Homo sapiens: one gene and its partners. The protein of the gene in region 5 interacts with the protein of the main gene of each other region in a pairwise test. Each region holds a gene or a part of one and is shown on either strand. Other genes may lie near its edges.

Region 1 (4,389 bases), on a different chromosome or scaffold from region 5:
ACCTGTAATTCCAGCACTTTGGGAGGCTGAGGTGGGTGAAGCACCTGAGGTCAGGAGTTTAAGGCCAGCCTGGCCAACATGGTGAAACCCCGTCTCTACTAAAAATACAAAAAATTAGCTGGGCGTGGTGGCGGGCACCTGTAATCCCAGCTACTTGGGAGGCTGAGGCAGGAGAATTGCTTGAACCTGGGAGATGGAGGTTGCAGTGAGCCGAGATCGTGCCATTGCACTCCAGCCTGGGCAACAAGAGTGAAAGTCTGTCTCAAAAAAAAACAAAACAAAACAACCCAGTAACTTGTGTGCGTGTGTAATCTCCCCGTAGCCAGCATTCCTGCCAACTAACAACACAGCCCTGCCCAGGCTGGTTCCCCTGATATTAGAATATGGCTACACCTCTGAAGGCAAAGCAAACATAAAATGATGAATGGATAGCTCCTACAAGTATTGTCAGACGCTCAGTAAATGCAAATCCCCACAAATATTTTAAAGTAGGATGAAAGCAATGCTTTGGAAAGATGACTCTGGAATGGATATGTGTTTCTTGAAAGAGAGACAGCGTTGAGGGCACTATAAAAGGTTCAGCTGAGGCAAAAAAGCCTTGAACTGGGCTGTTAAAAATGGAAATGGAAAAAAAAGGTAGAGTTGAAAGAGATGAAAAATTAAAGAACTAAAGCAGGTAGTAATTAAGAGGACGTGGAGGGAAGTCAATATGATCTGTTTTCTGCTCTGCAGTGCTCTTGGTCACAAATTTGACTGTCAATCCTAGAGAAGATCCACCCTCTCTGCTTAGTCTCCCTCAACTAATCCCAGAGCACGATGCTCTTGTGGGTTTTGTTTGTTTTGCTTTGAGACAGGGTCTCACTCTGTTGCCCAGGCTGGAGTGCAGTGTCACGATCATGGCTGACTGCAGCCTGGACCTCCCAGGCTCAAGTGATTCTGTTGCCTCAGCCTCCTGAGTAGTTGGGGCTACAGGCATGCACCACCATGCCCAGCTAATTCTTGTACTTTGTAGAAGTGGGGTTTTGCCATGTTGCCCAGGCTGGTTTCAAATTCCTGGGCTCCAGCAATCTGCCAGCCTCAGCCTCCCAAAGTGCTGGGATTACAGGTGTGAGCCACCATGCCCGGCCCTGCTCTTGTGTTCTTTAAATTTCTGTAGACACTAATATGTATCACACAACCTAGCACTTGATGATATATCCTATTTTTCACTGCTCCTCTCCTAGACCATCATACATCTCACTCAATTTTCATCTTTTATTTATTTAATTATTATTTTGGAGACTGAGTCTTGCTCCTTCGCCCAGGCTGGAATGCAATGGCACGATACCAGCTCATTGCAACCTCCGCCTCCTGGGTTCAAGCAATTTTCCTGCCTCAGCCTCCTGAGTAGCTGGGATAACAGGCATCCACCACCATGCCTGGCTAACTTTTGTATTTTTAGTAGAGACGGGTTTTCACCATGTTGGCCAGGCTGGTCTCAAACTCCTGACCTCAAGTGATCCGCCCACCTCGGCCTCGTAAAGTGCTGGGATTACAGGCGTGAGCCACCGCGTCCGGCCCATTTTCATCTTTTGTGATGCTTACTGGGAAGGACCTATGAAGATCCTACTACTCATTTGCAGAACCATCAGCCTCCAACTGGTCATAAATCATGGTTTTAGAAAAATTCATCTATAATTTTTTTTGTGGTGATTCTTAAAAACCTTTTTCATCAGTTTGATTTAGAACATCGGTTTCATCAGTTTGTCTCTCTCACACTCCAAGTCTCAGTTTTTAGCTGCATTAGTAACTGTTTAACCAGCCATTCTTCTTTTGGAAAGCCAGGTCCATTGTTTAATACCTTAAGTCATTATGCAGGTTTATGGTTTTGTCCAGTTAATATTCAACATATATGAAAGAATACTCCTTTACATGTGGGAGTTTCACTAGGCATAAAAACTTAAATCCCCCCCAAAAAAGGGCTGGACAAAGTTTGACAATGCGGGACCAAAGAGAACACAGTGTGTGGTCTCAGGGCAGGTGTCCCAGGGAGCAGCCTGGGGAACTGAAATGAGGCGTGGAGCCCAGCAGAGGAAAGGGGGAGGTCAGACAGGCACAGGCACCACCTTGGGCATCTATCTTCCTCATTACACAAAATACGTCTGGCTCCCTCTCCTTTTCACAGAGAGCCAAATTTTCCTTTCATAATCAGAGAAAAAAAGTTGATTTCTATGATTTCTACTCTCTAGAATTTGGGGAAATCTCAGGAAGAGATTTCTTACTCATTATTTTTAAATTTCTTGACCCCAAGTGTTCCTTCTACTCTTGGAAATATGATTAAATATTATAATACAATTTACCCTGTCTATTAAAACAATAATCCAAAAATAGTATGACTAATACTTCTAGAATTTGAGCAACAAAAGAACCTAGATGGCAAAAAGTAAAATTTATATTTCATTTCTCCTTCCTTTAATTCCTTCACTCTTTCACCATATACTTATTTTTTGAAAGAAGATCTCATTCTGTTGCCCAGGCTGGGGTACAGTGGCACAATCACAGCTCACTGTAGCCTCAACCTCCCTGGCTCAAGCAATCCTCCCACTTCAGCCTCCGGAGTAGCTGGGACCACAGGTGGGCACTATCACGCCAGGCTAAGTTGTTTATCTTTAATAGAAGTGGGGTCTCGGGGTCTCCCTATTTTGCCCAAGCTGGTCTCAAACTCCTGGGCTCAAGCGATCCTCCAGCCTGGGCCTCCCAAAGTGCTAGGATTACAGATGTGAGCCACTGTGCTGGCCTCATCATATATTTATACAGTGCCTACTATAGGCCTACTTCCATTTTAGGGTGCTGAGAATATAAAGATGATTGAGCATTCACAAAAATCTCAAAGTCCAGAGGGAGAACAGATAAGCAAATGAATAGCCACAATATATTTTTCTGATAGAGACACTCACACAAGGCTGCTATCTGGGGCACCTAAGCTAGACTGGGAAGGAAGTGGTCAGAAAATAGGTGGTATCTGAGCTAAATCCAGAATTATAAGTAGTCAGACAAAAGTAGAGCTGCATATGTAAAGGTGTGGAGTGGGGGAAAAGAAGGAAAGAGAGAGAGAATGAATATGGATAAATATCTTGCATTAAGGAAAGTAAAGAGGTTCCAGGTGGTTTGGGTATTGGTATGTGGGTATGTTTGGGGATGGTGGTGATGAATGGCAGAGAAGAGTAGAAGGAGAAGAGGCTGAAGTGATAAGCAGAGCTGAAAACACAATGGGGCTTGTAGGTCATGCCTAAAAGCATGAACACTTAGTGGAATTATGGAAGGGTTATAAACAATCACATGTGGAAAGATAATTCTGACAGTCCTAGAGAACGGTTCTGACTGAGCAAGACCAGAGGCAGAGAGCCCTGTGTAATGGAAATGGAAAGAAGGGTAAAAATTCAAGACCCATCATAGAAGGAAAAATATGGCTTGGTGATAGGTGACTACAGAGGGAGAAGATAAGAATGACTTCCAGGTTTGAAAATAGTAGACTACAGCAGGAGGAGATGGGTGGAAGTTGAGGATAGGGAGATGATGAGTTTAGTTTAGGATATACTGAGTGTGAAATTTCCAGGAGGTTGTTACATTTTCATATAGGTCCAGAATTTGGCATCAAGGATGGAATTGCAGACAAAACTTTGAGAACCATAAGGATAAAAGTGAGGTACACAGAGCCTCTCTGGAAGAGCATCAAGACTTGGAATAGAAGGGTTACTGAAGATGCCTTCTTTGAGCAGGCAGAAAGGGAGCACGCAGAGAACACTAACAAAGAATGGCTGGAGAGGTGAGTGGAAAACCAGGGGAAGCTGGTGCCCTGAAAACCAAGGGATGAGAGAATTTCATGGTGTCTCAAACACCACCCACAGGTTGAGTAATATAAGCAGTGCTTATATTACTCAATATAGTGTCTGCTTAGGATGTAGCAGATAAGGCCATCATTGCTACATTTGTCAGGAGACTGTTTAGGTGGAATGGAGGGGACTGAAATCATATTGCAGTGGGTTGACGAGAGACTGGGAAGTGACAGGGTGGTTCAAGAAGCAAGGGACACAGAGATGGAGGGAGAGAATGCCAGTTGTTGGAGGATGTCAGATAATAATTTTGTTACTGTTAAAATCATTTTGCTAAAACTGTGGCTATCACAAATCCTAGGCTATGGTAGGCATTCCATAAATTTTGAATTACCTGTTTAAAAGCCTTTATCAGCTTTTTCCTCCATAAACAATGACCTGATACACTTTCTCTTTTTTTTTTTGAGACAAGGTCTCACTGTGTTCCCCAGGCTGGAGTGCAGTGGCACAAATCTTGGCTCACTGCAACCTCCATCTCCTGGGCTCAAGTAATCCTCCCGCCTCAGCCTCTCGAGTA
Region 2 (4,389 bases), on a different chromosome or scaffold from region 5:
ACCTCAGGTGATCCGCCCACCTCAGCCTCCCAAAGTGCTGGGATTACAGGCATGAGCCACTGCGCCCGGCCTCCACACATTTCTAGAAGGCCATGCTCATACCCAGGGATGAACACATGCTCAGAGAAGATCTGAGAAGGCACCAAGCCCTCACCTTTGACTGACCTTCAGGCTCTGCATAAGAAGGAACTGAAGGCTAAGTCAGAGTTGTAAGATGCTTTAGCTGAGTTTTGAAGGCATGCTCCAACATGTAATTCAGATCCATTGGCAAAGACTGGTCATCTTTTGGGTTCCAGGTATTTAAAAAAATCTCTGACAAATTAATCCCAAGCTGAACACTAAGCTAACAGAACAGAGACTTCAGTGGCCACACATGACCAATACAGACGTTACAAAATTAGTTCAGAAATGTCACTAAACAAAGAAACAATACCAACTACAACAAACCTTGGGGAGGGGGGAAATCAGATTTAAAGAACTGCCATATTGTAATATTCTGAAAGTAGTTTTCAGCAAATAAATTATGAGGCATGTAAAGAAACAAAAAAATGGGCCGGGCGCGGTGGCTCATGGCTGTAATCCCAGCACTTTGGGAGGCCAAGGTGGGCGGATCACAAGGTCAGGAGATCGAGATCATCCTGGCTAACACGGTGAACCCTGTCTCTACTAAATATATAAAAAATTAGCGAGGCGTGGTGGTGGGCGCCTGTAGTCCCAGCTACTCGGGAGGCTGAGGCAGGAGAATGGCGTGAACCTGGGAGGCAGAGCTTGCAGTTAGCCAAGATTGCACCACTGCACTCCAGCCTGGGTGACAGAGTGAGACTCCATCTCAAAAAAAAAAAAAAAAAAAGAAACAAAAAATGAATGAAACTGCATTATAGGAAAAAAGAAATGAACAGAAATTTTCCATAAGGAAACCTAGTCATTGGATTTATTAGGCAACGACTTCAAATCAACTATTTCAAATATGCTCAAGGAGTTAATGGAAACTGTGTACAAAGAACTAATGGAAACCATGAGAATGAATTCTCACCAAATAGAGAAAATCATAAAGAGATGGAAATTATAAAAAGGAGCCAAATAGGAATTTTAAAATTGAAAAATATATATTATCTGAAATGAAAAATGTACTAGAGGGGTTCATCAGAAGACTTGATCAGGCAGAAGACACAATTAGTGAACTTGATGACAGGTCAATTAAGATTGCCTGATCTGTAGAGCAGAAATTAAAAATAAAGGGAAAAAAATGAACAGAGCCTAAGAAACCCAGAAGATACCATCAAACATCTGAATACACATAATGGGAGTTGCTACTGGAGAGGAGACAGAGAAAGGAGCAGAAGGAATATATGGAAAAATTGGCAAGGTGCAATGGGTCACGCTCTAATTACAGCACTTTGGGAAGCCGAGGTGGGAGGATCACCTGAGGTCAGGAGTTCGAGACCAGCCTAGCCAACATGGTGAAACCCTGTCTCTACTAAAAATACAAAAATTAGCTAGCTGTGGTGGTGCGCGTTTGTAATCCTAGCTACTGAGGAGGCTGAGGCAGGGAGAATTGCTTGAACCCAGGAGGCAGAGGTTGCAGTGAGCTGAGATCGTGCCAGTGCACTCCAGCCTGGGCGACAGAGTGAGACTCCGGGAAAAAAAAAAAAAAAGGAATATATGTAAAAATAATGGCCAAACTTTCCCAAATTTGATGAAAATTACAAGTCTACACATCAAAGCAGCTCAAGGATCTCCCAATAGGATACACTTAAAAACTCATACTGAGATACCTTAACATTAAACTGTCAAAAGCCAAAGACAGACTATCCTGAAAAATGGCAAGGGAGAAATAAGTCATCATGTACAAGATTAACAGCTGATTTGTCACCAGAAACCATGGAGGCCGCAAGCCAGTGGGATGATGACATACTCCAAGTACTGAAAGAAAAATATCAACCAAGAATTCTATCTCCTGCAAAACTATCATTCAAGATAGTAAAAAGGCAATCCACTGAATGGGAGGAAATCTTTGAAAATGATATATTTGATAAAGGTCTAGGATGCAGAACATATAAAGAACTCTTACAACTCAATAACGAAAAGGCAAACAATGCCCCCCAAATGGAAAAAGCACTTGAATGAACATTTCTTCAAAAAAGATGTATAAATGGCCAACAAGCACAAGAAAAGATGGCCAATCTCATCATTTTTTTTAGGGAATAGAAATAAAAACCACAATGAGACAGACAACCACAAGAATGGCTATCATAATTTTTTAAAAAAAGGAAAAGAGACAAATGTTGGTAAGGATGCAGAGAAACTAATACGTTGCTGGTCTCATGCACTGCTGGTAGGAATGTAAAATGGTGTAGCAGTTGTAGAAAAGTTTGGACATTCCTCAACACATTAAACACAGAATTACCACAGGACACAGAAGTTCCACTCCTAGGTATATACCCAAGAGAAAACAGGTGCTCAAGCAAAATCTTGTATATGAATGATCATAGCAGCACTACCCACAATAGCCAAAAGATGAGAACAGGCTAAATTTCCATCAGCTGATGAAATGATATATAAAAAGTGGTATATACACATAACGGAATAATATTCAACCATAAAAAGAATGAAGTTCTGCTATGTGCTACAACACAGCTGTACTTTGAAAACATCGGCCAGGCGTGGTGGCTCATCCCTGTAATCCCAGCAATTTGGGAGGCTGAGGTGGGTGGATCACTTGAGGCCAGGAGTTCAAGACCAGCCTGGCCAACATGGTGAAACCCCATCTCTATTAAAAACACAAAAATTTGCTGAGTGTGGTGGCGCATGCCTTTAGTCCCAGCTGTTGAGGAGGCTGAGGCAGGAGAACAGATTGAACCTGGAAGGTGGAGGCTGCAGTAAGCTGAGATCACACCACTGCACTCCAGCCTGGGTAACAGAGTGAAACTCCATCTCAAAAAAAAAAAAAAAAAAAAAGAAAGAAAACATTATGCTAAGCAAAAAGTGAGACACAAAAGACCACATTTTGTATGATTTCATTTATATAAAATGTCAAGAATTGGGCCAGGAATGGTAGCTCACATCTGTAATCCCAGCACTTTGGGAAGCTAAGGCAGGAGGATCACCTGAGCCCAAGAGTTTGAGACCAGCCAGGGCAACATAGCAAGACCCTGTCTCTACAAAAAATAAACAAATTAGCTGGGCGTGGTGGTCCGCACCTGTGGTCCCAGCTACTCAGGATCACGCCACTGCACTATAGCCTGGGTGACGGAGGGAGACACTGTCTAAAAACAACCCCCTCAAAAAGAAGAGACACATCTATAGAGACGGAAAGATTAGTGCCTGCCAAGATGTTCAGGAGGGAGAACTGGGGAGAGACCATTTCATGACTATGGGGCTTATTTTTGGTGTGACAACTATGTTCTGGAATTAGTGGTGATGGCTGTACTACACTGTGAACCTACGAAAAGCCACCAAATTGGACACTTTAAAATAGTTTAAATGGTGACTTTTGTGTCCTGTGTTACCTCAATTTAAAAAAAGAAAAAAAAGACTGACTTCCTGAGTCATTAAATAAATGCAGGAATGACATTAGGCTTACCCAGTGAGGCCAGGTTCCTGCAGTTCTCCAGCATCACGTCCCTGTACAGTGTCCTTTGGGCAGGGTCCAGCAATGCCCACTCCTCCTGGGTGAACTCCACGGCCACATCCTCAAAGGTCACCAAGCCCTAAAGCATTGCAAACATCACGGCTTAGCCAAGGACCACCCCCACCAATGTGCACAGGAAGAGGGGCCAGGAGAACAGAGCCAGGGCTGGGGAAACCTGAGCACGAGATGTGGGGGGATTCTGAGCTCCTCTCCTGAGGTTCTGAGCTCTTCTCCCTGGCTTCTGAGCTCAGCCCTCAATGCTTGTCTCCTTAGGCTACTCCCAGGTCCAGCGCACAGTACCGCAGAGCAGCTGTCTTTTCTCACTCAAACTGGGAGCTCCTATGATCTTATTTCCCTCAGTCTCCAGGGGATCATGGGCCCGTGACATGGCAGAAATCAGAGAAATACTTGGTAAGTGAATGAATGATTTCCGTATGGCCTTTATTAATTGCTTGGGTTTAGAACATCATCACGTCTTTACTTGGCTTTCCCTTAAAACTCTCAGGAGCACATGATGTACTCAGGGACTCTGGAGGGAGCTCTGAACCTGCAGTAAACGTTGACACACACTGACATTTTCTGGGCAGCCCTCACTCAGAGACCCTGGGATGCCTGAGGAACAAGTTTGGCCGTGGGGCTCCAGGCCACTGAAAGGCATCAAGTCCAACCTTCTGGCTGAAGGAATCATGATTTGGAAAAAGGAACATCCGACTCACCTTTAGCCAGCTTTTCAGGAGCTCATTAACCAGCTCTCCGCC
Region 3 (4,389 bases), on a different chromosome or scaffold from region 5:
GTAGCTGAGAGAGCTAAAGAATAGATTAACAAAATAACCTCCCCAAATTTGATTGTTCTGTGAAGAAAACACAACATTAAGATGAACCAGAAAGAGGTGAAACATTCCATTTAGAAAGTCTGTTTTAGGAAATGCAATAGATTAAGAATGCCTTATGTGTTGATATGCTACAAAGAGAAAATTACTCCTAAACCCTTCTGGATTCAAAATGAGTTTACCTGATGACAATTCTTAAGTTCCTCTGCAACTGGCAATCACCAAATAGTAACTTCCACCTGATGGGGGCTATTTTTGGTAGCCTGAGATATCCTAAAGGAAAAACACAATCTACAGAAAAGGAAATTCAGGAAACACTTGTCTAATTGATGAAGCAGATCTGTGGATCCTGAATTCAACCTTTTTTTTTTTTTTTTTTTTTTTTTGAGACAGAGGCTCACTCTGTTGCTCTAGTTGGAGTGCAGTGGCATGATCTTGGTTCGCTGCAGCCTCAACTTCCCAGGCTCAAGCAATCCTCCCACCTCAGCCTCCTGAGTAGCTGGCACCACAGGTGCATGCCAACAAACGGCTAATTTTTGTATTTTTGGTAGAGACCAGCTTTTGCCATGTTGCCCAGGCTTGTCTTCAACTCCTGAGCTCAAGCATTCTGCCCACCTTGGCCTCCTGAAGTACTGGGATTACAGGCCTGAGCCAGAGTGTCCAGCCCCATTATCTCTTTATGTGGCTTTTAACAAGCTATTCAAATATTCTCTACTTAGGGATCATATATCAAATTAGAGAACAGTTTAATATTTACTATAAGAATTTCATCCATGTAAGCTGTCTAAATGAGATTAAGATTTGCTCTATAAATTGCATTGAATGGGACTCAGAAAACAGTACCATGTGACTGACATAAACCTGCGTGTCCTTTTCATTTTCTGCAATTTCAACAGCAACTACTGACAGCACATTAATCAGTTGCTTTCAACTTTCATTTGGTATTTAACACCCATGATGAAAACGTTTTATTAAAACGCTAAGTAGCTTTTTTCCAGTTATATGTTTTATCTACAAAATCATGAAACACTTTAGAAAAACCCTACCTCACTCTGGAGCTGTGTAACTTCTCCTGCAAAAACACTGTCAATTGTGGCTGGCATCCGCTTATAAAGAGAATTAGAAAGGTCAGCTTTAATGGTGCCTTTGTATTTTGCCTGGGGGAAAAAAAAACAGGAAAAAAATAAATAAATAAACTTCCATTTTTTTAAACTGTGATTATAAGTAGAAAAGAAGAAACTTTCTCCCAAAACAGAATTGATTTTAAAATCTGCAGACCATTTTAATTTTAGATACCAGAGCTGACAAACTCCAGGATTCTGAAGAGATAGAAATAAATCCAATTTATCATAGAGAACGCTTTCAATGAGACATGCAAGGACATAATGGCTTTCTATTTAAATGCAAGCACATTTCTAAAAGTAAATCTATTTGTGTATATTGACAGTTTCATGCTGGATGAGTGAGCAAACAATTCGAGTTGTTCCAGAAAATGCAAGTCGTTAGAATCTACTATCTAGAACTTGACAAAGGACAGTGTTCTTTTATTCAGGTCTTCTCAGCCTCCTCCTGCTCCAGGGGGAGAGGGGAGTGAGTGCTTTTTTGTTGTTTATGTGCCTACCCACCTCTAGCCTGCACTGTCTTTAAGCCATCTCAGTCACTACTCTAAAGACAAACACTCTTTCCTCTTGGGAAAACTAAGGTTCAAGGGAACACAATAGATTGCTCACTTCCAATATTTTGCTCTGCAATTAACTCCTTCAGGAAACATAATCAATAATTGAGAACATCAAGTATTTATCTGCACGGGAGAATGGAACATAGCTAAGACAAACAAACTATGTTCTTCCATTATCTGCAGATGAGTTCCTGATGTTCTTCCTGCTCAGAGCTAGATTTCAGTATTGATTTATTGAGCACAGATCCTGTGCTAGCCTTCTGCTACCACACTCTTTGGATTTTGGTACTTAATGAAAGAAAACGTACTGATTTCATTCAAAATTGTTTCGCATTAGCAGAAATAATCCCAAGGACATCCAGTTGATCTTTTTCCAACATAATTTATGAAACACTAGAGGTCAGTCATTTACAACACTATTTCATTTCCGTTTCTTTTCAAACGTATCTCTTCTAAGTGATCTATTCACAGACTACAGTAATGCCTCACCACAGAAATCATCATCGTTAACATTGTGCTTTACAATGCAACATAAACTGTAGTTCTAAATGCTCTCAGAAAGAAACTACATAATTTTTCAGCTGGAAAATGAATATAGCGTATTCCTCAGTCTGTGATTTTATAATAGGTATCACTGTTGAACTGAACTTTATCCTACTCCAAAATAGTTTAAATACATTTAAAATTATTTATCAAAGATATCACATTTTAGAAAACTGGTAAATCTTATTTATTTCCAAAATGATATTCAATCATTTATCTCTGATATATCTATTAGGAAACAAAATAATGGAACTTCTAAAGTGAACTATTGTGCCAGTGCTTTTACTTATTTAATAAAAAGATGCCTTTTCAAGAGGAATCGTATATAAATAAGAAAGATTTAGAGTCAAAATATAGACATATATAATAAAATGTATGAAGCATACATAGTAAAATCTGTCAATCTATATGAGTTAAATGACAGCGCATCACATTAGATAATTATGTAGCTATTACTAACATTCAGTAGTGCTTTTGAAAATATTATTCTTCATCTCTTTAATGCACAGACTTTCATCTATATAATAAGAAAAAGATAAATGCAAGCCAGTTTGCAAGCTTTTGATACCTTACCTCAGAAATAAAAGCACCGATATTTTTTACATGGTTTAGCATAGGACTGTCAGTCACAAATGTACACTTATCCTTGGACTTTTTAAACTCTTCTTTATAACGGATCTAAAAAAGAGAATGATTTACATAAGAAGAGAAAAAGAAAAACAATTCTAATGGCCTTTTTTGAATGATAATTAGGTTGATAAAGTCCATTTACTGAAGTAAATACTCAAGTGTGAAAGGGACCTCAAAACAAGCCAAGTTAAATAAACGGCTATCCAGCACAGGATTGCAAAGATGATGAGGCATAGTGAGGAAAGACCATTCTTTAGATAAGCGAGGGTCCAGTTAAGCATCAACACCAGGCGTGCTGGCTACGGGTGATGGGTCCTGTTTACCCAGCCAGCCCAGTGCAATTAGCAAGCATGTGCCATCTCGCTCCTACAAGTGTCCTGGTGTTTTGTTGCTTTTAAGCCTTGACACATAAGCCTTTGGCCAAACAGAAACACAGCTGCCTACCTCAAGGTAGAAAATAAGTAGTCAGCATGACAGATGTGACCAATTAAGAAGTAGAGGCGAAATTAAATGGGGATCACTATTACCGTTATTACCTAGACATGCTTGATTAGAGGAAGAGGCTTAAATTGTGGCCAACGTGGGCTTCCTGTTACTAATTCCTCCCAATTTATGAGCACCCATAGGCTTCCCAATCCTCCTCCTGAGCGCAGAGAAGAACTGAACCTGCCCAGAAAGCTTGCTATGTGGTGGAGATCATTCCAGAAGGCCTTCTTGCTGGAGATCAGCAAGACAAAGCCCAGTGAGGCTTAGCTAAACCTGCTCATCTCTTCTCTGCAACTCACAAGTCAAATGACTCACTCTCTTCCCCTTTGGGGATAGGCCAGAATTGTTATGCCGGGGGAAGACCCGGGTGGATATTTGAGCCCAAAAGAAGTCAGGAAATGTGGAGAAGGACCTAAAGTATAATCACACTGTCACACTAATTGCTGCACAATCTGGAAACTGGGAAGGCAAAACTATGACTCATTGAGAAGATGCAGGTAATTTGCTAAAAGTTGTATCACTCTGTAATATGCTCGTGTTTATCCTCCCAAGACCATAAATACTTAAACTGAAAAAGTGTTCCTGTTTCAGATGATAAATTATATGTTCTCCCTAATTATAACCCAAAAGTGGAGCTGAATTGTATATACTACCTGGTTCTTAGAGGATGTGAATAATATTGATGTTATACACTAATGGTACATGGAGATTTTCCCATATGCAAGCCTGATTTGACGGGCATTACTTAACCTGTGGTAGAACTAGATACAGATTAAGTGAAGTTATTTCAAAATCCCATATTTCACTGCTGTGACTCTTGGATATCAGATGCCTACCACATTAAACATTTGCTTTATTCATGAAATCAACACGAGAACATATTTATCTTATCTGAGCACTAAATTACTTTTTTTTCTTCTCAGAGATTAGCCATAATTTTAGGTTCCTGCAAATCACCCTCCTCAGCCACTAGTAATTAAACTGTTAATGGCAGTATGATAAATAGTAGGCTATTT
Region 4 (4,389 bases), on a different chromosome or scaffold from region 5:
CTTTCTTGTCCTCAGGGTCTCAGCTCACAGGACCTTTTAGAGCAAGTAACCCCCTGCCCTGCCCCCATCAACGCCTTCTCTAATTGACGTTATTTTCTCCATAATCCACCGGCTACCTAACACTGTCATATCTGGGTGCACTGCAGTCATGAGGAACATGCAGCCACTATTTGTGAAATGAAGGAATCCTCAAGACCAATGATAGGAACGTCATTATGCCCATTTTTCAGATCAGGAAGCTGAGGCTCAGAGAGAAGTCAACCATGAGGGCCCTCTACTTCCTGGTGAGTAAGCAGCAGCTGCTCAGTTTGAACTCGGGTGTGCCTGAGGCAGCGCAAGGTGATGAGGGGCTGAGGCTTTCCAGTCCATGCAAGGCCTCTAAGGCCAAGAGAAAGGTCAAGGACCCTTGTTCTCTGAGCAAGAGTGTCTTAAGGAAGTCTGGGGCACAGCAGCCCCAGAGACCCTCAACTCCAGCCCAGCAGGGACAGGAGGGGCAGAGGAGGGAGAATAGAGGGCCACCCCCTCACAAACCACAGGTGCATGTTCCACTGTCAAAGCCCATCCAAAGGCTCCCTGGCCAGCTTGGGGCTAAGTTGGGAGTCCAGAGGGGCCCCCTTCACCAAGCACAGCTGCAGTGACCACCCGGGATATGCTATGTGCCAGGCCCTGAGCTGAGGACTTCACATCTGCTGTCCACTGCTGGCAGTCACCCTGTGACTGTCCCCATTTTGTGAATTGAGGAAGCTGGGGCTCAGGGGCTTCAGTAACTTACAACCTTGCAGCTGGGACTGCAGACAGCTAGGATTTAAACCCAGGAAAGGCTCAACCCAAATTGAAACAGCTCGTCTCAGACACTGTGGCCTGAGAGAAGGGGACCTGATGGAGGTCAGTCATGCAGAAATGGGTTAAACATGTGACATGAAAAGACATACCTCACACAAGTGACAGGTGCAAAACAGAGGCTTTAATCTGAACAGCAATGAGGGTGCAAGGGGCTGGGAGCCCATAGGGGGATGGGGGAGCCAGGAAGGGCTGTCTGGCCCTGGGAGAGAGGTGGACGCTGGGCCTCTTCTGAGAAACTGTCACTGACCTTTGGGACTCCTGACCCAGCCTCTGCCCAGACCATCACCGGATCCCAGGCTGAGCCCCTGTGCTGTGCTTCTCAGTGCTCCCCCTTCCTGAAGGGTGTGTGGACCCAGACACAGGAGGGGGCAGTGGAGAAGGGCAGGCCTGGGGGACGAGCCTGTAAGAGCCAGGCCCAGGAACAGCCCTAGGAGAAACCTCGGCGGTGGCCCTCAATGGGCCTGCCCAGCCCCCACTGGGCCCATTCTGAGTGCCAAAGCCTGGGCTTGGGAGGCTGTCTCTTACCTCACCCTATAAAAGCAATGGACAGTTCAGGGAGGTGGGAGGACAAGGTGTGGGACTGCCACCTTCTGGGCCCACCCATCACCCAGGGGAGCAGAGAAGCAGGGCCCAGGGGCCCAGGGTGAGGCTCACAGCAGCGCAAAGGTAGCAGAAGTGGCCGGGCCTAAGACTGCCAAGAGGAATCCAGGCTCTCCAGATACAATGGGCCCCAAGCCCCTCCCTGAGTTTCTGCCATCCCCTCCCTGCCAGGGAAAGTTCTGGAAAGACATGCCTCACCCCATCATCTGGGCCCTCCCAGGAGCCCAGCACCTACCCAAAGGGCAGCTTCCATTGGCTAGGTTACCCTTAGGGAGCGGGAGAGATGTGGCTACAGTCAGGAAACCCAGCAGAGCCAAGGGCTAGAGAACTGAAGAGCCAGGGGGAGGCTTGGACACAGGGGGCCTCAGGCCCAGGGGGCAGGGTGAAAAGGAGCCTGGGAGGGGCACCAGCCAGGACAGCTAAGGCCTCTCCACCACCCGACCCCACCCACCCCACCCCAGCCCACAGCTGGCGGCCAGCCTCAGCTTCCAGCCCTACCATAGATGGCCACCCCGGCATGGCCTGGGAAACTGACCCGCCCCTGCAAGGAGCAGCTCCAACCCTTAGAAAGGCATCGACTCCAGGAAGGGAAAAGCAATGGAAGCAGCAGGTATCTCTCCTCCCTTCCCTGCGGTGCTGCAGAACAGCCCCTGCTCTCAAAACCAGACTGGACGGGAGTGAAGGGAGAAGAGGCCAGAAACAGGAGAGAGTGGCCGAGTGACCAGGCCCCAGACCCTCTCTTCTGGCCAGTCTAGCACACGGGAACTCAGAAAACTGGCTACACTTTGGTCACTTCTCCCAACTTGGGCCCTGAAGCCTTATGCTCTGAGCCCCCTCAAGCCCATCTCGCCACCCCACCCCAGTAAACAGCCTCTCATCAAACGGGACGAACAGAGGGAGGGGATGGGGAGGGGCCACTGCTGGGGTGGGGAAGGCAGGCACAGGAACTGTGGCCTGGGTGGCTCTTCGGCTTGGCCCCTCCTAGCCCGACGTGACAGGATGGATGGGCAGCAGGCTCCCGAACTTGAAGTGCTGGATCACAGGGAACTTCTCCAGGCACTGTGAGGAAGGAGCAGGTGAGCAGAGTGGTGAGGGCCACACCACACCCCTGCCAGGACCCCAACAACCGCAGCAGCTCCCAGGTGTCCATCCCGGGCCCAGGAAGTAGCCCCGCCAGGGGATCCCCCAGGCCTTCCTCCCCCAGTTCCTCACTCCTTCTATCCAAAGACACCCACTCCACAACGAGACCCACGAGAGAGAGAAAGAGAAAAGGCAGCCCAAACCTACAAGGTAGAAACCGAGAAGAGAGGCAGCCAGGTGCCATCACTTGGCCCAGAGAGGGAAGTTGGGAACCTGAGGTGGAAAGAACCCTCCTGATCACTGGGGACCCCCAGCCCAGGTCCCAGTTCTAGAGAAGAGACGTGGGGACATTTGAACGTAAGCCTAAGAGGCTGAGGCCGGGTCCCAAAGCCTGTTTTCTCCAGCTTTCAGTTCTCTGGACTGAAAAAGGCATCTTGGCACTTCAGAGCGAGACAATAAGAACCAGCTGACACTGAGTTCCCCCCACCCCTGGGCAATTCCCAGCAGCCTGTGTGGGGGGCAGGGGAAAAAGAGCGCTGAACAGGGGAATGGCTGAGCACGGGGGAGGCCCGACTCCCTGAGCCCAGCCCAGCCCGGGCTCCTAGCAGAGGAGCAGAGCTGGAGAGCAAGTGACAGGGCCTATCACAGAAGCTGGCCTGGCCCACAGGCAGCCAACCCCAGCTTCCAGCTGCAGCTCCCGCAACAGCACCCCCATGCCTGCCACACCTGGACACTAGCTCTCACAGGAGCCGTTCTGGGCATGCGAGGGTTGGATCTGCCAAGACTGACCAGGGCCTCCTCCCACACCTTTGGCCACAGAAAACAGAGTATGTTAGGCACCTCCTGGCTGGGGTGGAACAAGACTTATGGCCTCAGAGAGAGTAAGAGCCTCACTCTGTGGCTGTGATCTTAACCTCCAACTAACTTAGAGACAAACGGGTGCTATGACTGGCCCAGGTTCCCTCTCCTCAAAAATCAGCTGTGGAACCTAAGAGGGAGAAGCACCAGGGTGACGAGTGGGCCAAAGAGGCGCCAGGAGGGGAGGGAAAGAAGGATGGAAACCAAGCTCATGGTGGGGTGGGGAGCAGAGCCCTGGCCACAGCCAGGATCCTGGGCCTGAGACACAGAATGCGGGAGCAGGGAGCGGGAGGTGGTCCCTGGGCGGGAGGGGGAGCAGCCGCAGATCCAGGCCAGAGGCCAAGGCAGCTGCCATGGTGCTTATGTCATCCCAGAAGTGGTCATAAGAGCCCCCCCACCCCCCAAGGGCCCTGGAATTCCAGAAGGGGTCAAAGGTCAACCTCCCTCTAGCTCCCATAGAAGAAGTTGCAAGGCGAGAAGGGGTGGAGGCAGGGGTTCTTCCCATTCTGCCCACAGGACCCCAGAGCCAGCCCCCTCAGAGCCACAGGAGCTGGGCCAAGGAAGCCTAAGGCTCCAGGGCAGGAGGAGCCTCCAGCCCAGCCTTTCTCCCAGCAAGGCCCTCCCATGTACCTGGGCGGAGCAGCGGCTTCAGACTGCCCCCTGACCTTCCAGCCAGAGGTGATTCAAGCTGGGGAAGGGACTCCCTGGGTCCTGACAAGGTCCTTCTGAAGGCAGCACCCACACAGCCATGGCCCAGAGGAAAGACAGACCCTCCCCCCCGCCGCCCCGCAACCACACAAGGCCCCTGAGAGCACTTGGTTCTTCGGTCAGAAAGGCTGGGACAGAGCAGAGTTAGACCCAAATCCTGAGGCCACCTACTGCCAGGCTGGTCAGACTTCTGTGGCAGCCCAGGAGGCTGACTCCCCTCAATCAACCAGTTCTGACTGGAGACCCAGCCTTCCTACCCACCCCTGGACTGCAAGACTGGCAGGCCTTGGAGGGCCTCCT
Region 5 (4,389 bases):
AAAAAAAAAACAAAAAAAAAAACAAAAAAAAAAAAGGCCAGGTGTGGTGGCTCACACCTGTAATCCTAGCACCTTGGGAGGCTGAGGAGGGTGGATCATCTGAGATCAGGAGTTCTAGACCAGCCTGGCCTACATGGTGAAACTCCATCTCTACTAACAAATACAAAAATTAGCCGGGCATGGTGGCGGGCGCCTGTAATCCCTGCTACTCAGGAGGCTGAGGCATGAGAATCGCTTGAACCCGGGAGTCAAAGGTTGCAGTGCACACTGTGATCGCACCATTGCACTCCAGCCTGGGCAACAAGAGCAAAACTCCGTCTCAAAAAAAAAAAAAAAAAAGAAACCAAAAAAAAACCTAAATTTAATTTCTTTCCAAAAAGAATGACTAGAAGAGTCCTGTAACTTCAATTATTTGCTCCTTAATGTGATCAACTGAGAATTTAAATTGAGCTTCCTAAGAGCTTCATTTTCCTTTCTGCCTCAACGGCAGTAAAAAAAAAAAAAAAAAAAAAAATTAAAGTGGCAAGTTATAAGCAAGAGTATAGGAAGTAAAAAAAAAATTTTATTGAGAAGAATGTTTGCTTTGAAAAAATATTTCTCAAAACAACTTTCTTTGCTATTCTGAAATTTCATTAACATGACAGTATCTAAGGCAAAACCTAAATCATGTTTGTACTGTGATTGATGATACAGGCTTCCAAGGAGGGCAGAGTGACTCTGGGTTGGCAGTGACAAGTTCTGTTCTATTAATACTTGTGGTAGGCAGAATATGATGTCCACATGCCAATTCCCAGAAGCTGTGAACACATGGCAAAAGGAACTTTGCAGATGTGATGAGATTAAGGATTTTGAGATGGGAGAGTACTCTGGATTATCCAAGTGAGTCCAGTGTACTCATAAGAGTCCTTATACATGAAAGAGGGAGACGAGAAGGTAAATGTTAGAGTGATATGATGTGAGAAAGACTCAGCCATCGTTGGCTTTGAAGATGGGGAGGGGGCCATGAGCCAAGGAATGCAGTAGCCTCTGGAGCTAGAAAAGGCAAAGGAGTAGAGTCTTCCCACTGAACCTCCAGAAGGAACGCACCCTGCCAACACCCTGGCTTTAGCCCACTGAAATTTATTTGGGACTTTTTTTCCCACAGAGAGAGGGTCTTGCTTTATTGCTCAGGCTGCAGTGCTCCTGCATCAGCTTCTCAAGTAGCTGGGACTACAGGTGCACACTACTACACCTGCTAATTTTTAAACTTTTTTTTGTGGAGTGTGGTCTTTCTATGTTGACCAGGCTGGTGTCGAACTCCTGGCCTCAAGTGATTCTCCCACCTCGGCCTCCCAAAATGCTGGGATTATAGGCATCAGCTACCAGACGTAGCCTGTTTGGGACTTCTGACCTACAGAACTGTAAAATAATAAATTTGTGTTGTTTTAAGCCATTAAATGTGTGGTATTTTGGAAATTATCTATTAGTGATAGGGCCAACTTTAATAAAAAGAAAAGTTCATAACCCAACAAAATGGGAACTCATACTATTACTATTTAAATCTTATTTATACCCCAGTGTTTCTTCATGCTGTTTGTTTGTTTGTTTGAGATGGAGTCTTGCTCTGTTGCCCAGGCTAGAGTGCAGTGGTGTGATCTTGGCTCACTGCAACCTCCGCCTCCCAGGTTCAAGTGATTCTCCTGCCTCAGCCTCCCAAGTAGCTGGGATTACAGGCACCTGCCACCATGCCCAGCTAATTTTTTTGTATTTTTAGTAGAGACGGGGTTTCACCATCTTGGCCAGGCTGGTCTCAAACTCCTGACCTCATGATCCACCCACCCCAGTCTCCCAAAGTGCTGGGATTACAGGCATGAGCCACCGCACCTGGCATCTTCATGTTTTTATAAAGGCATCTTAGCATCATGCTCAGTTTCCAACATTTTGCTTTCAAAACAGTATCCATTCTCTATACACAATAAGGAATTGGAAGAAAAATATAAAAATAATCCCATTCTGATTTCAAGAGGGATGTTGAAGGATGGGGATGAACCCTGAGCTACCACGAGCTACCACGTATTTTTGTAAATCTGAAACCATGTTTCTTAAATCACTCTCATGTTGTTCTAATTTGTGTTTGTTCAACTTTGAGGGGAAGTTTCAGAAGAGGAAGTTTTACAACATAGATTACAAAATATTTAGCCAGATAACAGCTGGTGCCATGGTACAGGCATGGGCTTATCCACAGACTCCCGATCATTTTGGAGTTGTAACATTTTATCAAAATACGATGCTAAATTTTATTATTTCCATAAGGTAAGGTATAATTTCTTTTTGGTTATGATAAATTAAGACTAACTGTTTTGACAATTTTTGAGAGTTTCATGACCTCCTAAAATAACCAGAAGCATCTCTGTTCTTCCTGGAACACTCCTTTCCCAAAGATCCACTGCCTTACTCTCCCCTTCATTCTGGTGCTCAGGCCAAGGTGGGAGGACTGCTTGAGGTCAGGAGTTTGAGACCAGCCTGGGTAACATAGTGAGACCTTGTCTCTAGAATTTTTTTTTTTTTTTTTTTTTTTTTTTGAGACTGAGTCTTGCTCTGTCGCCAGGCTGGAGCGCAGTGGTGCGATCTCGGCTCACTGCAACTTCCGCCTCCCAGGTTCACGTGATTCTCCTGCCTCAGCCTCCTGAGTAGCTGGGATTACAGGTGCACGCCACCATGCCTGGCTAATTTTTGTATTTTTAGTACAGATGGGGTTTCACCATGTTGGTCAGGCTGGTCTGAAACTCCTGACCTCATGATCCACCCGCCTCAGCCTCCCAAAGTGCTGGGATTACAGGCGTGAGCCACAGCACCTGGCCGAAAAAATTTCTTTTAAATTAGCCGGATATGGTGGAACATGCCTGTAGTCTCAGCTACTCAGGAGACTGAGGCAAGAGGATTGCTTAAGCCCAGGACTTTGAGGTTGCAGTGAGCTGTGATCATGCTACTGCACTCCACCTTAGTGACACAGTGAGACTGTCTCTTTTTAAAAAAGAAAAAGGCCAGGCACGGTGGCTCATGCCTGTAATCCCAGCATTTTGGGAGGCTGAGGTGGGCGGATCACTTGAGGTCAGGAGTTTGAAACCAACCTGGCCAACGTGGTGAAACCCCATCTCTACTAAAAATACAAAAAAAAAAAAAAATTAGCCAGGCATGGGGGCGGGCACCTGTAATCCCAGCTACTCAGGAGGCTGAGGCAGTAGAATACCTTGAACCCAGGAGGCGGAGGTTGCAGTGAGCCGAGATTGTGACACTGCACTCTAGCCTGGGCGACAAGAGTGAGACTCCACCTCATAATAAATAAATAAAAATAAAAAATAAAAAGAAAAGTAAAAAGAAAAAAAATGTCACCTCCTTACAGAAGCCTTCCTAACCCTGGCCTGAAATACTAGCACCCCATTCCCCATAATCACTCACTATCCCTTCACTTACCACTGCCCAATGTTACACATCTGTTGATTTGCAGGGTTTTGGTTTTTTTTCTTTTTTTTTTTTTGAGACAAAGTCTTGCTCTGTTGCCCAGGCTGGAGTGCAGTGGTACAATTTTGGCTCCACCTCCCGGGTTCAAGCAATTCTTGTGCCTCGGCCTCCCGAGTAGCTGGGACTACAAGCACGTGCCACCACACCCAGCTAATTTTTATACTTTTAGTAGAGATGGGGTTTTGCCATGTTGGCCAGGCTGGTCTCAAGCTCCTGACCTCAAGTGATCCATCCGCCTCAGCCTCCCAAAGTGCTGGGATTACAGGCATGAGCCACTGTACCCGGCCTGCAGGTTTATTTTCTATCTCCTCTATTAGAATGTGAAATCCATGACATTAGGGCCTTTGTCTATTTTGTTTACTGACATTATTCTCAGAAATTGGACCTGTGCCTGACACCTAATGATGCCCAGTAAATATTTGACTGCAAAAAAAAGTACTTCACAAAAAAGGCAAGGTTGGTAATCATTTATAGATATCATTAATATATTAGATGCATAACTACTGTACTGTACAATATTTAGAAATATAAACATCGACTACTTTTTTTTTTTTTTTTTGAGATGGAGTCTTGCTCTGTCGCCCAGGCTGGAGTGCAGTGGTGCCATTTTGGCTCACTGCAAGCTCCGCCTCCCGGGTTCATGCCATTCTCCTGCCTCAGCCTCCCGAGTAGCTGGGACTACAGGAACCTGCTACCACGCCCGGCTAATTTTTTGTATATTTAGTAGAGACAGGGTTTCACCATGTTGGCCAGGATGGTCTCGATCTCTTGACCTTGTGATCCACCTGCCTCAGCCTCCCAAAGTGCTGGGATTACAGGCGTGAGCCACCACGCCCGGCTATCAACTACTTTTATACTACCACCAATCCCAAGAGATGAATAAAGATA
Region 6 (4,389 bases), on a different chromosome or scaffold from region 5:
ACTGCGGTCAGGGCAGGACATGGGGCACAGTGGCATGGTTGGTCCTGGTGTGCAGCTGTTTTTTATGGGGTCTTGCTCTGTTGTCCAGGCTGGATTGCAATGGCGCAATCACGGCTCACTGCAGCCTCAACCTGCCAGGCTCAAGCCATCCTCCCACCTCAGCCTCTCGAGTAGCTGGGACCATAGGTGTACATCACAATGCTTTGTAGAGATGGGGTCTTGCTACATTGCCCAGGCTGGTCTTGAACTCCTAGGCCCAAGTGATCCTCCCACCTCAGCCTCCCAAAGTGCTGGGATTGCATGCATTAGCCCCAGTGCCCAGCCTCCTGCATTATTTTAATGCTTCCATTATGTTGATGTACATAGTAGCTAATTCCCCACCAAGGAGCATTTTGGTTGTTTCTGGTTTTTCCCTCTTACCTAAAAGCTGCAACGAGTGTTTTGCACTTTTGTGTCACTGTGGTCTTTGTTCTTATAAGTGGGATTTTTGCCAAGTTGTATTCCAAAAAGTTGTGCAACCAGGTGTATCCGAGGGCATGTGGTGGTGGCTGGGTCTCCCTTTAGCCAGAGAGAAGCTCCTAGGCCTGTGCAGTGTCTGAACCACCCCTCGTGATTATCCCCAGTCTGTTCCAGAAATAATCCAGGATCTTCCCATCTCTGTCTTGAGAACACTGTGTAGAATCACGAATGTCTATGTAGAAAGGAAAGGGAGGGCAGGCCCCTCTGTAGGCTCTCATTGCAGAAGGACTCTGTCCAGCCCAGCCACGTGCCGCCCTCTGCTTCCTCTAGGAGGCAGACAGGCGGATCCTGCAGGCCCTCCTCGAGAAGGAGGACGAGAGCCAGCGCCTCCACCTGGCCAGGCGGGAGCAGGTCATGGCCGATGTGGCCTGGATGAAGCAGGCCATTGAGGAGCAGCTGCAGCTGGAGCGGGCGCGGGAGGCAGAGCTGCAGATGCTGCTGAGGTGAGTGGCAGCTGCTGACTGGGCTGGATGCTCCTGGCCTCAACTCTGATACCTTGAAATGCCCCATGGGTCACCTGTTACTGAAATATCTATTGGCTGGGCGTGGAGGCTCACACCTGTAATCCTAGCACTTTGAGAGGCCGAGGCAGGTGGATCGCTTGAGCCTAGGAATTTGAGATCAGCCTGGGCAACATGGCAAAACTCCAGGCTCTACCAAAAATACACAAATTGGCCAGGCGTGGTTGTTCATACCTGTAGTTCCAACTACTCGGGAGGCTAAGTGGGAGGATCACTTGAGCCCAGGAGGTTGGGGCTCCGATTAGCCATGACTACACCACTGCACTCCAGCCTGGGTGACAGAACGAGACTCTGTCTCAAAAAAAAAAAAAAAAAAAAAAGAAGAAGAAGAGATAGCTGTGTATGTTGTCCATCATTCCTGAGGAGCACATCTTCATAATGGACCTGGCCTCTGGGGGTGTTTCCCTTGTATTATCTGAGGTGGAAATCATTAAGGTTTAGAGTAACGATGTGTTCATCTGAAATCTTAGAGGTTTAGAAGGAAATTATTTTTTTTTTTTTGAGATAGAGTCTTGCTCTGTCACCCAGGCTGGAGTGCAGTGGCATGATCTCGGCTGACTGCAATCTCTGCCTCCTGGGTTCAAGTAATTCTCTGCCTCAGCCTCCCGAGTAGCTGGGATTACAGGCGCCCGCCACCACACCCGGCTACTTTTTGTATTTTTAGTAGAGATGGGGTTTCACCATCTTGGCCAGGCTGGTCTTGAACTCCTGACCTTGTGATCCGCCAGCGTTGGCCTCCCAAAGTGCTGGGATTACAGGCGTGAGCCACTATGCCCAGCCAGAAGGAAGTTATTATAGAGATGTTGAATGCTGCTTACATCTATAAAACTGAGTTTGGGTCCTAAAGACTAAACTAGTAGATTGAAATCATCAAATAATAAGTAGCATACATTGAGCACTTACTGCATGCTGGACACTGTGCCGGGTGCTTTACAGGCCTCATCTTACTGAGTCCTGACATCCAGCCAAGTGGTGGCTTGTGAGACCCGGAGACTTGAAGAGGTCACTCCGTCCAGGGTGAGCTATCAGTGACACAGGCATGCGGTGGCAGGGTTCAGGCACAGGCAGCGCCCTCCTCTCCATGTTCTGATGGTTTCATTCATCTCTGTGTTAAACAGCCACGGTGTAAGTCATCCCAATTCCTTTTTATAAGGAGATGGGGTATTAAAAGGGTAACTTAAAATACTTCCAACAGGGCCAGGCACGGTGGCTCACGCTTGTAATCCCAGCACTTTGGGAGGCCAAAGCAGGTAGATCACTTGAGATCAGGAGTTCAAGACCAGCCTGACCAACATGGTGAAACCCTGTCTCTACTAAAAATACAGTAATTGGCCAGACATGGTGGCACATGCCTGTAATCCCAGCTACTCAGGAGACTGAGGTACTAGAATCGATTGAACCTGGGAGGTGGAGGTTGCAGTGAGCCGAGATCGCACCACTGCACTCTAGCCTGGGCAACAGAGCGAGACCCATCTCAAAAATAAAAAAAATGAAAAACTTCCAACAGTACTTTCCGTGGATGCTGTCCTTAATTGTAATCTTTTCAAAGTGCATGTGGATGTTTATCTGCAGTGTGGTCCTGCAGAAGCCATGTGCCCTGCAGCCCTGTCTGTTCCGTAGCTCGCTTCCTGCCAGGGCGGGGAGGAGCCTGCTGTCATCCCTTTTGTGTTTGCCCAGGGAGGAGGCCAAGGAGATGTGGGAAAAGAGAGAGGCAGAGTGGGCCCGAGAGCGCAGCGCACGGGACAGACTGATGAGCGAGGTAATCCCAGCTGCGGCGATGTGGACCGGCTGTTGGGTCTTGGGCAGGTGTCTGGAAGTCCATGGTCAGTCACCCTGCCAGATGCTCTGGGAACAGAGTCTTCTCTGGTCATTTTAAGTGGGCTTTAAAAATCATTGAAAAAGTAATATGAGCTTAGTAGAAAAGAATTCAGAAGTACAGGAAGTAGAAATGGAAAAAAGTCCCCCAGAGCCCATCCTGTATGCAGCCGTAGCTGCTGCTTCTGTCTGCTCTTCTGTTTCTATGCCTGACATTTTTTCTACATGTATTTCTTACTGTCTTGTGCTATTTGGCTTCAAGCGTTGTGACATGCTGTTACATCTTTATAAACGGCATGTCAGGGGCTGTATCACGGACTGTCCTCTGTCACCCGCTGCCTTTCCATTCCCTCTTATGGGTGTGCTGTGTTGTTCTAATTGGAAGCCATTCTGAGAAACGCTGCAGAGAGCCTCTTGGTGCCTGAGGCTCTTCCCACACGTTTCCCCCCTCGGGGTAGATGACAGCCGTGACCTGGAGGACATAACTGCTTTCCTGGTCAGTGTGTACACTGTGCGTGGAAGATATACCCCAACCGCAGAGAAATCTGGGAGGAGAAGAGAGAGTGTTACCCATGGGCTGAAAGCTGTTGTAAAGTGGTTTCAAATGAGAAACTCTACGTTGTGTCTGGTAGTATGCTGTATTTTGGAATCCACAGGAAATTGGGTCGTGATTGGTGATGTTTTGCTCTTGTAAATACCAAGAATTCTCCAGTGCCTTTTGATTTTCCTCATTTAAATTTCCCTCCTGATGGCGGCCACTTTCTGTTCCCCCCAGCCCTGCAGCCTAACTGTTGAGAGTGTCAGGTGGTTTTCTGCTCCTGACTGTGGCCTGGGCTGGAGTTCAGATGTCACACGGCTCTGGGGCCAGGTCTCAAACACAGCAGGTTCAAAAGGTTAGAGGACCACCCCAGCTCCACCTCTGGTCATCTGTGTGGCTTGTGGCTCTCTTGTTTTTGGAACCCGCTGATAGGAAGGAGACTCACCTTGTTGCTCCAAGGTTTCTCTGGCCCCGGGGAGACAGCTCCATCCCCATCTCCTTTGATTTCTTTGGCACTCAGCTGTCTCTCCATAGTACACAGTCTGGATACATTTTGTGTGTCTTGGGTTGCGAGGGAAACATTTCTTGTATACTGGCAAGCGTGGCCGACATCGTGAGAGCAAATCCTGTCATCTGGCTCTGCCTCTGCGTACCTGGGCCTGAGGCCCAAGGATGAGGCTGGGCCTTGCTGTGGCTGCAGCCTGTCCAAGGCTTGTAGAACCAGGATCTGTTAGGGTCAACCTCAAAGCTGCCCTTTTCTTTCTGCTGAGGTTAGGTTCTGACAGGGAGACAACAGCAAATACAAGAGAAGATTGAGCAGAACCGACGGGCACAAGAGGAATCCCTGAAACACAGGGAGCAACTTATTCGAAATCTTGAGGAGGTGAGAGAGTTGGCTCGTCGCGAGAAAGAGGAGAGTGAAAAGCTGAAATCGGCCAGGAAGCAGGAGCTGGAAGCCCAGGTAGGGCTGAGCCCAAGGGCGGGAGGCACCGGGCC
Region 7 (4,389 bases), on a different chromosome or scaffold from region 5:
TCCTGTGGGTTTCTATCATGTTTTTCTTTACAATGAACATGTACTGTTTTATAAATTTGTTTAAAAAGTAATCAAGACAAACTAAGAAAGGACACCAACGAAGCGGGACTCCCTGCAAGTCTCCTGGGACCAGCCAGGGTGGGCCAGCTTAGTGGGAGGATTCTCCTTGGTGGCGGTGACTGGGGTCTCCCTTGTCTGAGCTGCATTCTTTCAAGAACACACTTATTGCAGTCAGCTGCCCAGGACTTGTGGAGTGGGTCATCTGGCTGCTCCTGTGACCTTCCATGGTTTTCTTTCTGAGAAGCAGCATTTTACTTGCTGGATACCTACTCTGGAAATTTGTCTCTGAATATGAATAGCATCCTTCTAAGACCTGAGAGTGAGAACCTCGCAGACTGCAGAACACTAAGCCACGTGATGAGAATCATCTGAAGAATGAAGCCGTGCTGTATTTACAGAACATTTTTCTTAGTGCGTCATTAACAAGAAATATTAGATCATAACAACATGAAGAGCGCTCCTGCCTCTGTGCTTGTCTCAGAGGCAAGCCCTGCCAGAAGCCAGCCCTCCTTCCCTCCTCTCCCCTGCAGGGGTGGCTGGGTGGCGGGGCGGCCCAGGACAGCAGTCTCCTCCCCGGCTCTGGCTAGCTCCAGGCAGACAAGTCCAGGGCCCGGCCCCTCCTGCCTCCTCAGCCGTGGTGGACGCCTTACTTGCCTCCTTCTTGTGAGGGAAAACCAAGGACCCCTGCTGGCAGATCGCCTCCCCGGGGTGAGGATGGTATGAGGGATGGCACAGACAGAGGACGTGTGGCTCCCACAGCGTGTCCCAGGGGTCCCGGGCTCTGCTCTCGTGTAATCACAGCCCCCCGCCAGCCATTCACAGCCCTGTCACTGGAGCCTCAGCGTCAACGCTGTGGACGTGGGCGAAGTGTGAGGGAGTAAGCGGAGAAGCGTGGGCTCATGATTCCTGAGCCGGACCAGAAGCTGTAGGTTCTCATGGCCCCACGGGCATGGGCTGTGGACTGTTCTTGGAGGAGACCATGGGTCTCTGGGACAGGAAAGTGGGCAAGTGAGCCCGTGACAGGTCCCCAGCATGACAGAACTGAAGGTGTGGGGTGTAGGGCGGGGAGAGGGCCTCTGTGACAGACCTGTGTGGTCCCCACCATCCAGCGTGGCCCTCGTGCCTGCCCAGCCCCTCCTCAGCCTCTGCAGAGCTGGGCCGGGAAGAGCCCCCCGCGCTGTGCCCACTGTGGCCCGCGTTGCACCCTCAGGCTGCACAAAGGCCACGTGTTACCTGTCGTGAACCTCGGCTTGGTGGGGGGCTCCTGCACAGACACGGGGAAGGTGGCAGACGCGGGTGAGGACTGCGCCCGGGACAGAGGCCTGTGGCCGCCGAAGGACACGGGGATGCCGGCGGCCTCCATGGACGCCTGGTAGTTCCTCAGCTGGTGGATCCGCTGCTGCTCCAGCAGGAGGGCTTGCTGCGGGGAAGAAACGGCCGTGTTGGCGGTTGCGGATGTCTCCCGCCCCTGGGCTGCAGGGCTAGGGGTTGCCCTCTCTTGCAAGTCTCCCGTCCACGCACAGGCCATACATGGGCCACAAGGATGCCGGGAGGCCAGCTGCGTGGAGAGGCCTTCCCTGTGAGTGCCCTGAAGCCTGAGTGGGCCCAGAGCCAAGAACGAGGCCAGCACAGGCTCTGCCTCCCAGGACGGTCTCTCTAGGGAAGGCAGGCTGTCCACGTGGGATCCTGCCATGGGTTACGTTAACAGGATAACACAGGTTGAGTCAGGGGGTCCCAGGGAGGCCTGGCCCAGTATGGGGTATCAAGGAGGGCTTCTCTGAGGAGGTGCTGAGCCAGGAGCAGCCTGGAGCAGGTGCAGGGGAGTAGGGCCTGGCAGGTGTGGAGAGAAGCTCTTGCTGGGGCGGCAGCCTGGCCCTCGCTGGTTTCACTGGGGGATATGCGAAGGCCATGTAGATGTGGGGACCACAGCGTCCACTCTGCCATACCACACACATACGGTGAGTGGGCACGAAGCCCAACCCCCTTGTTGGGTTTGTGGGTCTTAGTTCTGACCAACAGCATTGAATCTGCATGCCAAACTTGGGCGAGAAAGCACCATCGGCTCTCAGACTTGAAAGTGCCAACTGGGCTTCATCTGCAGCCGCTCCCCTCCCTGGTCTCACATCCCACACACCCTCGTGCAGGCTAAAAGCAGTAACAGCCCATCAGCTTCTGGGCACCCAGGACCTTTGGGGCCTAGAGCAGGCCTGCTGGTGGGGATGTGCCTCTCTGATGAGATGGAGCTGGGCTGGGCTCTGTGTGTGGGGGGGGCACTCAGCCAGGGGCCTGGGACACCCTGAGGGATTCTGGGAACAGGCTGAGGTGCAAACCCCCATACGAGGCAGAGTGGAGTGGAGGGAGCAGGGCAGAGATGAGGTCACAGCTGCCAAGCCTCTCCCCAGACAGCAGCTGAGGGAGAGCACAGCAACCTGCCACCCAGGCCGAGGCACAAAGAAAGCCGGGCGCCTCCTTGCTGGGAGCTCTGCGCCAATCCTGTCTTAGTTTTGATGAACAAATCCTGTGAACATGGAAAACCAGGTACCTACATCCCAGCTCCTGTATGAAGGCAGAGCCCAGCCCTGTGCTGCCAGCACTGGGGGAAACCAGAGCTACCCGGCCAGGCTCCGATCTGTCCTGCCTTTAGGAATCAGGCTGGGCGTGGTGGCTCATGCCTGTAATCCCAGCACTTGGGGAGGCTGAGGCGGGTGGATCACCTGAGGTAAGGAGTTCGAGACCAGCCTGGCCAAAATGGTGAAACCCCATCTCTCCAAAAAAACAAACAAACAAAACAAACAAACAAACAAAAAATTAGCCAGGCGTGATGGTGGGTGCCTGTAATCCCAGCTACTTGGGAGGCTGAGGCAGAATAATTGCTTGAGCCCAGGAGGCGGAGGCTGTAGTGAGCTGAGATGGCACCACTGCACTCTAGCCTGGGCAACAGAGTGAGACTCTGTCTCACACACACACACACAAAAGGAATCAGAGCCAGGAGGGAGCAGAGAAGAAGGAAGCCCTGAGACAGTGGGAGGAGCTGCAGCAGGAGCTGGAGCAGGAGCCAGCACCCACAGGCCCCCAGTCTGCTGCTGACCAAATTCAGCTGGGATTGCCGTGGGCCCCACGCGGTTAAGTGGTTAATAAGCAATCCTCCCCGACGCGGGCTGGAGGTGCCCCGCCTTATGTTTACCTCGGCAAATTGCTCCGTGTACTACGACGTTTCCCTGATAAGGGGTTCTGCCTATTACTCTCCAGAGAGAACAGAAAATAAGTGTTTCTAATAATCATCTCATGCTTGGAATATAACAAGCCTCTTTTTCTCAAAGTAAAGGCTGATCTATGAGAAACTAGCCCTAAAAATTATTAATGTAAATAGTTTCCCATTTCTTATCAGCCTAATAATAGCACACTGAATTTCAGATCTTCATCAACTTACAAGGCCCGACCACAGGAAGAGGCCCCCACCCTGGGCCTGTCGGACAGGACCTGTGGACGAGTGTTCACCATGAAGCACCGTGTGTGTGCCAGAGAGGCCCGGGGCTTTCTCTCTCTGTCTTTGCCAAGCGTTAGTTCTGCTGGGCTTTGTAGTGTTTAGTGCCCGGGGTGCTAATTAAGAAGGCCCAGAAATTAGAGACAGGCCCCCCTCTGAACAAGAAGGAGAAATAGCACCCAATGCCAGCCACTGGGGGAAGCTCGGTGGAGAAGGGCTCCTGACCCAGAAGCCTCTGGAGACCACTGAGCACTGATCCCGTGTGTGGCAGGCTTGGGTCTAGGTGCTCCAGGTACAAGGCCCCACACTGATTCATTCAGTGGCAAGCATTTAAGAACTGTAGCTGAGAATTAAGGGGAACAGTTTACTGCAGGGCGTCCTGCTCCTGGCTTCCAAGGTGCTGCTGGGGGTGGAGATGCAGCGTCTGGCCACACAGCTGGCAGTCAGGAAGCTGGGGAGGTGCTCAACGGCACGGCCGGCATGGAGTCCAGAGAGAAGGGAGGGAACGAGCCAGTGGCTCCTGCAGCCGAGGCAGCAGCTCTGCTGCTGGAGGATAGAATCAAATCCTACAGAGCTGTGGTTCCTCGGACTGGCTTCCTGCCTACAGGGAGGAAGCCACTTTCCTGAGGGCACTCTAGCTGCAGATACGGGGCTCCAGCTGGCTGCCCAAATGCCTTAGGTATTTCTGCTGACTCAGAAGTTTAATGTTTCAATGGAAATTAACCAGTCATTCACTGGCCTTCTTCATCAGTCTCCTGTGAGTTTGGTTACTGGGTGTCAGTGCCCTGAAGCCTTACTGGCTCTGGGTGCCACAATCGCACCCGTCTGTCTGGATCTGCAGGGCT

Evidence for each region.
Region 1: the proteins of CCDC125 (region 5) and PKP2 interact in binary tests that used the Homo sapiens proteins (3 or more experiments, as listed by UniProt).
Region 2: the proteins of CCDC125 (region 5) and ZNF557 interact in binary tests that used the Homo sapiens proteins (3 or more experiments, as listed by UniProt).
Region 3: the proteins of CCDC125 (region 5) and NEBL interact in binary tests that used the Homo sapiens proteins (3 or more experiments, as listed by UniProt).
Region 4: the proteins of CCDC125 (region 5) and PTPA interact in binary tests that used the Homo sapiens proteins (3 or more experiments, as listed by UniProt).
Region 6: the proteins of CCDC125 (region 5) and TCHP interact in binary tests that used the Homo sapiens proteins (3 or more experiments, as listed by UniProt).
Region 7: the proteins of CCDC125 (region 5) and HDAC4 interact in binary tests that used the Homo sapiens proteins (3 or more experiments, as listed by UniProt).

What each region holds. Positions count from the first base shown.
Region 1 is NC_000012.12:32,872,271-32,876,659, forward strand, and holds part of PKP2 (plakophilin-2), read right to left. Parts: intron 1-4,389. UniProt on the Homo sapiens protein: A component of desmosome cell-cell junctions which are required for positive regulation of cellular adhesion.
Region 2 is NC_000019.10:7,075,702-7,080,090, reverse strand, and holds part of ZNF557 (zinc finger protein 557), read right to left. Parts: coding exon 4,348-4,389; intron 3,711-4,347; coding exon 3,584-3,710; intron 1-3,583. UniProt on the Homo sapiens protein: May be involved in transcriptional regulation.
Region 3 is NC_000010.11:20,887,015-20,891,403, forward strand, and holds part of NEBL (nebulette), read right to left. Parts: intron 2,936-4,389; coding exon 2,831-2,935; intron 1,194-2,830; coding exon 1,083-1,193; intron 1-1,082. UniProt on the Homo sapiens protein: Binds to actin and plays an important role in the assembly of the Z-disk. May functionally link sarcomeric actin to the desmin intermediate filaments in the heart muscle sarcomeres.
Region 4 is NC_000009.12:129,145,500-129,149,888, reverse strand, and holds the end of PTPA (serine/threonine-protein phosphatase 2A activator), read right to left. Parts: exon of another isoform or gene 2,503-4,389; coding exon 2,425-2,502; 3' UTR 943-2,424; downstream 1-942. UniProt on the Homo sapiens protein: PPIases accelerate the folding of proteins. It catalyzes the cis-trans isomerization of proline imidic peptide bonds in oligopeptides. Acts as a regulatory subunit for serine/threonine-protein phosphatase 2A (PP2A).
Region 5 is NC_000005.10:69,315,440-69,319,828, forward strand, and holds part of CCDC125 (coiled-coil domain-containing protein 125), read right to left. Parts: intron 1-4,389. UniProt on the Homo sapiens protein: May be involved in the regulation of cell migration.
Region 6 is NC_000012.12:109,910,274-109,914,662, forward strand, and holds part of TCHP (trichoplein keratin filament-binding protein), read left to right. Parts: intron 1-789; coding exon 790-962; intron 963-2,717; coding exon 2,718-2,799; intron 2,800-4,168; coding exon 4,169-4,354; intron 4,355-4,389. UniProt on the Homo sapiens protein: Tumor suppressor which has the ability to inhibit cell growth and be pro-apoptotic during cell stress. Inhibits cell growth in bladder and prostate cancer cells by a down-regulation of HSPB1 by inhibiting its phosphorylation.
Region 7 is NC_000002.12:239,110,233-239,114,621, forward strand, and holds part of HDAC4 (histone deacetylase 4), read right to left. Parts: intron 1,481-4,389; coding exon 1,294-1,480; intron 1-1,293. UniProt on the Homo sapiens protein: Responsible for the deacetylation of lysine residues on the N-terminal part of the core histones (H2A, H2B, H3 and H4).